2 linked regions of the Homo sapiens genome follow. The protein of the gene in region 2 purifies or fractionates together with the protein of the main gene of each other region. This does not show direct contact. Each region holds a gene or a part of one and is shown on either strand. Other genes may lie near its edges. The genes, in order: PNPLA7 and RNF14.

Region 1 (3,817 bases), on a different chromosome or scaffold from region 2:
TTGAAATGTCTTTACCGGGTTTGGTATGAAGGTTTGTTTGTTGGCTTCATAAGCTTAAGTGGGAAGTTCATCTTCTTTTCCTATTCTCTAGAAGGTTTTTAAAAAATTTTTATTTTTACTTTTTTATTTTTATTTATTTTCTTTGAGACAGTGTCTCATTCTGTTGCCCAGGCTGGAGTGCAGTGGTGTGATCACAGCTCGCTGCTGGGATTACAAGTGTGAGCCGCTGCGCTCAGCCAGAAATGGAATCTGTAACTTTTAAATCCCCACAAAGAAAGTTTCATATCCAGATGGTTTCACTGGTGAATTTTATGAAACGTATAAGGAATAAATAAAACAAATTTTACATAAAACCTTCCAAGAGGCCAGGCGCGGTGCCTCACACCTGTAATCCCAGCACTTTGGGAGGCCAAGGAGGGAGGATTTCTTGAGCCCGAGAGTTCCAGACCAGCCTGGGCAACATAGTGAGACCCCATCTTTATAAAAAATGAAAAGATTAGCTGGGTGTGATATGGTCGTAGCTACTTGGGAGGCGGAGGCAGGAGGGGGATCACTTGAGCCCAGGAGGTTGAGGCTGCAGTGAGCTGTGATCACACCGCTGCACTCCAGCCTGGGTGAGAGCTAGACCCTGTCTAAAAATAAAAATAAAAAATAAATAGATTAAATTTATTTAATCTTTACTGAGTTACAGTACTACTCATATGTTCTATTTCTTATGTTATTTTGGTGAGTTAGGTTTTTCTAAAAATGTGCCCATTTTATCTGAATTTTTCTATTTATGGCATGAAGCTGTTCAGTATTTTAAACTAAAGCATCTGCACCAATGTTCCCATTTTCTTTCCTGTTCATCATTGATGCTTTCTCTCTTTCATTTCCTTGATCGGCTTCACCCGGGCTGTCCGTCGAATTGGTCCCTCCAACACCAACTTTCATCTTTGTCAATCTTCTCTATGTTTGTTTTTGGCTCTTTAAGTTATGCTCTTATCTTTGTTATTTGCTTAATTTTACTCTTTTATTTAAGTTGTTCTTTTTTCCCTAACATTTAGACGAGCAGACATTGTCTATAAAGAAACAGATAGTAAATATATACTCTCTCACAACCACTCAGAGGATAGAAAAGTTAAGGTAACGCATCTTTTATTTTCTCAGGCTCGCTTAAAGGTTTTTTCTTTCCTTGGGTTTTTGACAACATGAGAATGGTTTTCTTTTGATTTATGTTAGGATTTATCATGCTTCCTGATTCTGAGGCCTGATGTCTGTCTGTAGAACATGCCACACTGTCTCTTCAGATACAGCTCCCTCCCTGTCTGCTTTCTGTGGCTCTGATCACACATACATTAGAGTTTGGTGCCAGATCCCATGTTTCCTAAACTCCCTTACAGATTTTGTAAAACAATATTGTTACATATTCTGTCCTCTTGATGCTTCATGATTCAGTGACTGTTTCTGACCCATCTTGTATTTTACCATTTCTCTCTTCAGCTGTTCTGTTCTGCCGTTAGACCCACTCATTGAGCTTTTCATTTGTTATTATATTTTTCACTTCTAGAATTTTCATTTGGTTTTATGCCAGAATTAACACTCTTGTTTTTAATTCCTTGAACTTGGGTTTTTGTTTTTGTTTTGTTTTTTCTGAGACGGAGTTTTGCTCTTGTTGCCCAGGCTGGAGTGCAATGGTGCGATCTTGGCTCACTGCAACCTCCACCTCCCAACTTGAACTTGTTTTTAAGGCTTATACCTGAGTAATATTCTGTGGCAGTATTACATATGGTTTTTTTTATTATGTTAAAATATACATAACATAAAATTTACCACTTAACCATTTTTGAGTATCCAATTAAGTATTAATATATCATATTAATATAATTAATGATACAATGTTGTTACAATGTCGTGAAATGAACAATTGCCACTGTTCATTTCCAGAACTTTTTTATAGACAGGGTCTCACTCCAGTCCAGGCTGGAGTGCAGTGGTGTGACGTCAGCTCAGTGTAGCCTTTGACGTCTTCCCACCTCAAATCTGCCCCCATGATCCAGTTACCTCCCACCGGGTCCCTCCTCCAACACTGAGGATTAAAATTCAACATGAGATTTCGGTGGGGACAGAGAGCTAAACCACAGCAAATGCCTCCAGGGTCCCCCCCAGCTGTGGCTTGCATCCGAGCTCCCTCCTTAGAGCTGGGTGCTCTTCCCTTGTCTACTTTGTACCCATTCATCAGCTGTTGCCACCTTTTGGCTCCCTGCACACTTTAAGCGTGGTCATTGTAAAAGCCTGTGTCTGTATCTCTTACCTGGGAGGCACTCTGGGCCCACTTTCATTGTCTGTTTTTTCTTTTGGCTATGAGGCCAAAAGGAAAGCCTATATGAGGCTTTTCTTCTCATATGACTGGTAATCTTTGGTTGAGTGGTGGACATTCTGTATGAAAGCAGCAGTAGCAATTAGAGGCCCTGGGTGCCGGCTGCCTGGTCTCGGGGGTGCCCCCTGGTCTCGGGGGTGCTCCCTGGTCTCATGGGTGCTGGTCTACATCCAGCTCATCTGACTCCTGGGGTGCTGCCCCTCAGGATGCTTCCCAGGCTCCTCCCTTCCAGGGCCCCTCAAGTCCAGTTTTCCCACCACCTCTCAGACGCCCTGCTGGAGGCAGCCGTGTTTCCGGGTAGAAGAGGCCAATGCCGGTCAACTCTCAGGACACCTTCCTCCCCATCCCAGCCTCACAGTCCCTCAGTACCTCCAGAAGGAAGGATTTCATTTATTTAATTAATTTATTTATTTATTTATTTTGAGTCAGAGTCTCACTCTGTCTCCCAGGCTGGAGTGCAGTGGTGTGATCTCAGCTCACTGCAACCTCTGTCTCCTGGGTTCAGGTGATTCTCCTGCCTCAGCCTCCCGAGTAGCTGGGATTACAGGCGCGCACCACCACGCCTGGCTAATTTTAGTATTTTTAGTAGAGATGGAATTTTGCCCTGTTGGCCAGGCTGGTCTCGAACTCCTGGCCTCAAGTGATCTGCCCGCCTTGGCCTCCCAAAGTGCTGAGATGACAGGCGTGAGCCCGGAAAGAGGGGTTTTAAACTGCATCTGGAGTCCCTCTCTGCGTCAGCGTCTCTGCCTGTGGAGGAGTTGGGAACTGAGGATGAGCACAAGGCCTCTGCAGGGCGCAGCCTGGGCCTGGTACTCACTCCTTGCTCTGTGTCCCTGGCTGGTGTAGAGGCTGTGCCCAGGTGGGCGTTCTCAAGGCCTTGGCGGAGTGCGGCATCCCTGTGGACATGGTGGGAGGCACGTCCATCGGGGCCTTCGTGGGTGCCCTGTACTCTGAGGAGCGGAACTACAGCCAGATGCGGATCCGGGCCAAGCAGTGGGCCGAGGTAAGCAGGCACCCATCACCCTCACCGGAGCACAGCCCCCAGGTCCTTGCTGGTGCTGGGGGACGCTGGGGCCGTTGGCCTCTGCATGTGGCTCTGCAGGGCCCTGCCCTCGAGGAGGCTACCCCCTGAAGCCTCCCAGTGCAGCTTGTGAGGCAAAGGAGCACCACAGAGAAGGCACAGATGCAGGTTGGTGGTGGGAGGCGGTCTGATCTGTGCCCAGGTCTGAGTTGGTGGAGACGGTGGTGGGAGGTGGTCTGATCTGTGCCCGGGTCTGAGGTGATGGAGACGGTGGTGGGAGGCGGTCTGATCTGTGCACGGGTCTGAGATGGTGGAGACGGTGGTGGGAGGCGGTCTGATCCGTGCCCGGGTCTGAGATGGTGGAGACGGTGGTGGGAGGTGGTCTGATCCGTGCCCGGGTCTGAGTTGGTGGAGACGGTGGTGGGAGGTGGTCTGAT
Region 2 (3,817 bases):
AGTCTATAAAAAAGTTGGTTAATCATTCTAAGAGACGTCCCCTTCAGATGCCAACCTCACACAAGAATAAGCTAGTGATTCCCCAAGGTTTATGGGATCCTACTAGCAGATATACAAAGTAAATTATCACAATTACTTAATAACTACTTTAACACTCATCCTTGCCCACTGCAAGGCCAAAGGAAGCATTCCATTTGCTTAAGCAGTAGACTAAGACCATAGCATTTTTAATGGATACAGCAAAACAACTTGTGGGCTGGCTCCAAGGCCTCGGACTGCCCCATGAGCCCTATCAAGGAAGTTCCTGAGATGATATCTCCATTTATGGAAGAGAATTAGGAGGCAACCATCAGCAGGGTAAACAGTTACCTGACCAGGAGTGGCCACCGAAGGGCACTTTGGTTCTGGGCAGTTGAGGCATTGAACCTGGCCATCTCTGATCTGGATTTCAAAGTAGTCCTTCAGACAGGCTTTGCAGTACACATGCCTGCACTCCAAGAAGTACATGCATTCACTACCCAGCTTCTCACAGAAACAGATACTGCACAGGAACAATTTACTATTAAAGCATTTTATCTGCTGAGCTTGATCAAAGTCCAAGATTTCCTGGATCAGATTTGACAGTGATTCCACATCCTGCACTGCTCTCTCATCCACAATTTCCTCTTGGTCTACATCAGATCCAGCAGCTCCTCCAAAATCTAGCTCTGTGTTGGGAGAAGCTTGAGCTGTCCTTCTCTGCACTTTTTTCTGAGAACCAATCTTGAGCTCAAAAGGAGAGACAATATTCAAGTATGCTAGGGTCTCTTCCTTAAGAAATTGCATCCAGGCAAACAGGACCACGCTGCCACGGTGTTCTTCCCATAGGTTGTCTAAGTGCTTGCATAGAGCAGATAGCTAGGAGAAAACACATGAAGATGTTGGTGAGTTTGGAAAGATGATGCTGCTGCCAACTCCTGGTTTCCCTAGAAATCTTTTCCACTTGCAAGTTAGGCCCTTATTCTAACACTATTTTTTACTGCTGTGATACACTGTGCTACATACAAAACAGTACAAACATTCTTACTGGAGCACTTCTTAAACTATTCGGCAACATGAGCCAGAGTAGAACATAAAGTCAGAAGCAAGAAGTACCACGAGAAGAAGAGAAATAGCAAGACTCCGTAAGGTAGAGAAATAGCTGTACATTTTAGCCACTGAAATGGAAGACTTTTTTCTGTTCTTTAATCTTTTAGTACTGCCATATACCTCATGTAGGACAAAGAGATCTAGTTCTAAAAATAAACTATTTTTCTTCCATTAGGAGTCCTAGCCCTGTTCGTATCCTAGAATAATGGTTAGAAAAAGAATAGTTTAAAAATACTATCCAAGTTTTAAAATTAATTCTTTCAGTTTTATCAAAAAGTCAACTCATCTGAAACAATCACTAACAGAATTCAACCTCAGAGTCCTTGTTCAGATTTACAAGCTGCTTTTAAGTAAGCAATCTGGGCTTATATCAGATCCTGGTTAATGGAGGGAAGCTGCCTGATATTGACCCTGGTCCTAATCACAAGCCCTCAGCAAGGTTTGGCAGCCATAGAGAAAGCTTACACTTCCTAAGCTAAGCAACCAAAATTAAATTATTTGGAATTTTCCTCTTTAAAAGTGGTCTGTTCAATTTGAAAGGCAAATGTTGGAGAATTTTCCATTAGAAATATAAAATATTTTTAACTAGAGCACAGGAATTATAAGCAGCTTTTCTTTTTTAGGTAAACATCCAAAAATATGCCTTCCAGATGGCAAACAAATTTTGTAAATTTAAATGACAAATGAAAAGGGACCAGATTTTCTGTTTCTTACACTCTGTGTAGTGCCACTGACTAAACCCTGCATAGGTACTACCTTAAATACTTATTGATGAGTTAAGATTGAACAACTAATGATTTTTCACATTTGCATAAATATCCTTATAAATCAACCATGCTTTTGAGAAATCTGCTAACATCTGTAAAATGTGATAAATACTAAAAGGGAAGCTATGAGTGCTGTGTGAGCTACCAAGTCCTATGAAGAAGCCATTCTCCAACCTCTTTTCTACCCCAGTCCCTTCTCAAGAGAGGCAGCTGGGGCTGGGCGTGGTGGCTCATGCCTGTAATCCCAGAACTCTGGGAGGCCAAGGCGGGTGGATCACCTGAGGTCAGGGGTTGGTGATCAGCCTGGCCAACATGGTGAAACCCTGTCTCTACTAAAAAATACAAAAAATTAGCCAGGTGTGGTGGCGGGCGCCTGTATTCCCAGCTACTTGGGAGGCTGAGGCAGGACAACCACTTGAACCCACTAGGCAGAGGTTGTAGTGAGCTGAGATTGTGCCCCTGTGCTCCAGCCTGGGTGACAGAGCAAGACTCCATCTCAAAAAAAAAAAAAAAAAAAAAAAAAAAAAAGAGAGAGAAAGGCAGCTGGAATGCATGTAAATGGAAGGGGGACGGGAAAGAGACTGTGTAAGTATATTGGGGGAGGAATAAGGAATAAGGTTTTAGAAAACTAAAACCACTTCCCTCTGTCTACCCGCCCCAATTCAGGGAATGACAGCTCTATGTGTCAATTTCACCATTAACAGGTGAGAGTCATAATGCCAAGGAATCAGGGTACAGCAACAAACAAGAACTGAACCAAGAAGGAATATAAGAGACCAATTAAAATGTTAATTATATGCATAAACATTTATTTGATTAAGAATTCTACTGTAATTTTAGCTGTAACACATAAAACAACTCTCTTCCCCAGCACACACCTCCGCCCCCAAATCCAGCATTAAGTAGATGCTGGTTGGCTGGAATCTGAAACCACAACCACGCATCCAGTTAATCTGTCCCTGTTTTGTGCGTGTGTGTGCATGCACGTGCATGCACGCACATGCGTGGATGTAAAGTATGAAAAGCTCTCTGGTGAAATAGGACTATGAAGATCTAAATAATTAAGCCAACTATCAGTGGCCTAAATGCCAAACAGTCTTGATATTCCTGGACAAATCAACTGTCTTGCATCTGTTGCCTCTGGCACAGACATTAGAATGTAAAGTAATACTCCTTTTTATTCTACCTGTGTTATCCTTTTTAAGGTTTAATTTTGCTTTTAAACCATAAGCTCTAGTTTGTGAAAGTACTCTCACTTAAAAGATTAGATTGGTGGATGGGGAAATGAAAACTGTATGATCCAAAGAGAAAAACTAATGAGCTATTCCTTGAGGTCAGCAACTCTGACATCTTTTGTCTTTTTCTTTTTTTTTTTTTTTTGAGACAGGGTCTCTGTCTGTCACCCAGGCTGGAGTGCAGTGGCTCAGTCTTGGCTCACTGCAATCTCTGCCACCCAGGCTCAAGTGATCCTCCCACCTCAGCCTCCCAAGTATCTGGGATTACAGGGACGCACCACCACACTTGGCTAATTTTTGTATTTTTTGTAGAAATTGGGTTTCGCCATGTTGCACAGGCTGAGCTTTTGTCTTAATACACATTAGTCTATTGATCTTCATTATGACTTCTAGAAAAGCAGCTGCTGATTCATTATCTCTCCCAGAATGCTTTATATTATTTATATTTAGCTTCAAGCCATATTTATGTCTCAATCAAGAGTTGAGGTTGTTACTAGAAAAGTATATATAACCCAGAGGAAATGAGGTGCTTAACATAAGGCCTCAAGCCTTACTGAGATATCTACAGGAACTATACACATTTCTACTTGTATGCATTTATGTCTACGTGATACCAGTTGACTGTTATTTGTTATTAATACAGATTTTTACAAAGAAAATCAGTTATTGTATTCACTCAGAAAATTT

Evidence for each region.
Region 1: the proteins of RNF14 (region 2) and PNPLA7 purify together in Homo sapiens (affinity purification with western blotting; one study listed by BioGRID). This does not show direct contact.

The regions. Positions count from the first base shown.
Region 1 is NC_000009.12:137,466,862-137,470,678, reverse strand, and holds part of PNPLA7 (patatin-like phospholipase domain-containing protein 7), read left to right. Parts: intron 1-3,205; coding exon 3,206-3,362; intron 3,363-3,817.
Region 2 is NC_000005.10:141,975,383-141,979,199, reverse strand, and holds part of RNF14 (E3 ubiquitin-protein ligase RNF14), read right to left. Parts: intron 898-3,817; coding exon 370-897; intron 1-369. UniProt on the Homo sapiens protein: E3 ubiquitin-protein ligase that plays a key role in the RNF14-RNF25 translation quality control pathway, a pathway that takes place when a ribosome has stalled during translation, and which promotes ubiquitination and degradation of translation factors on stalled ribosomes.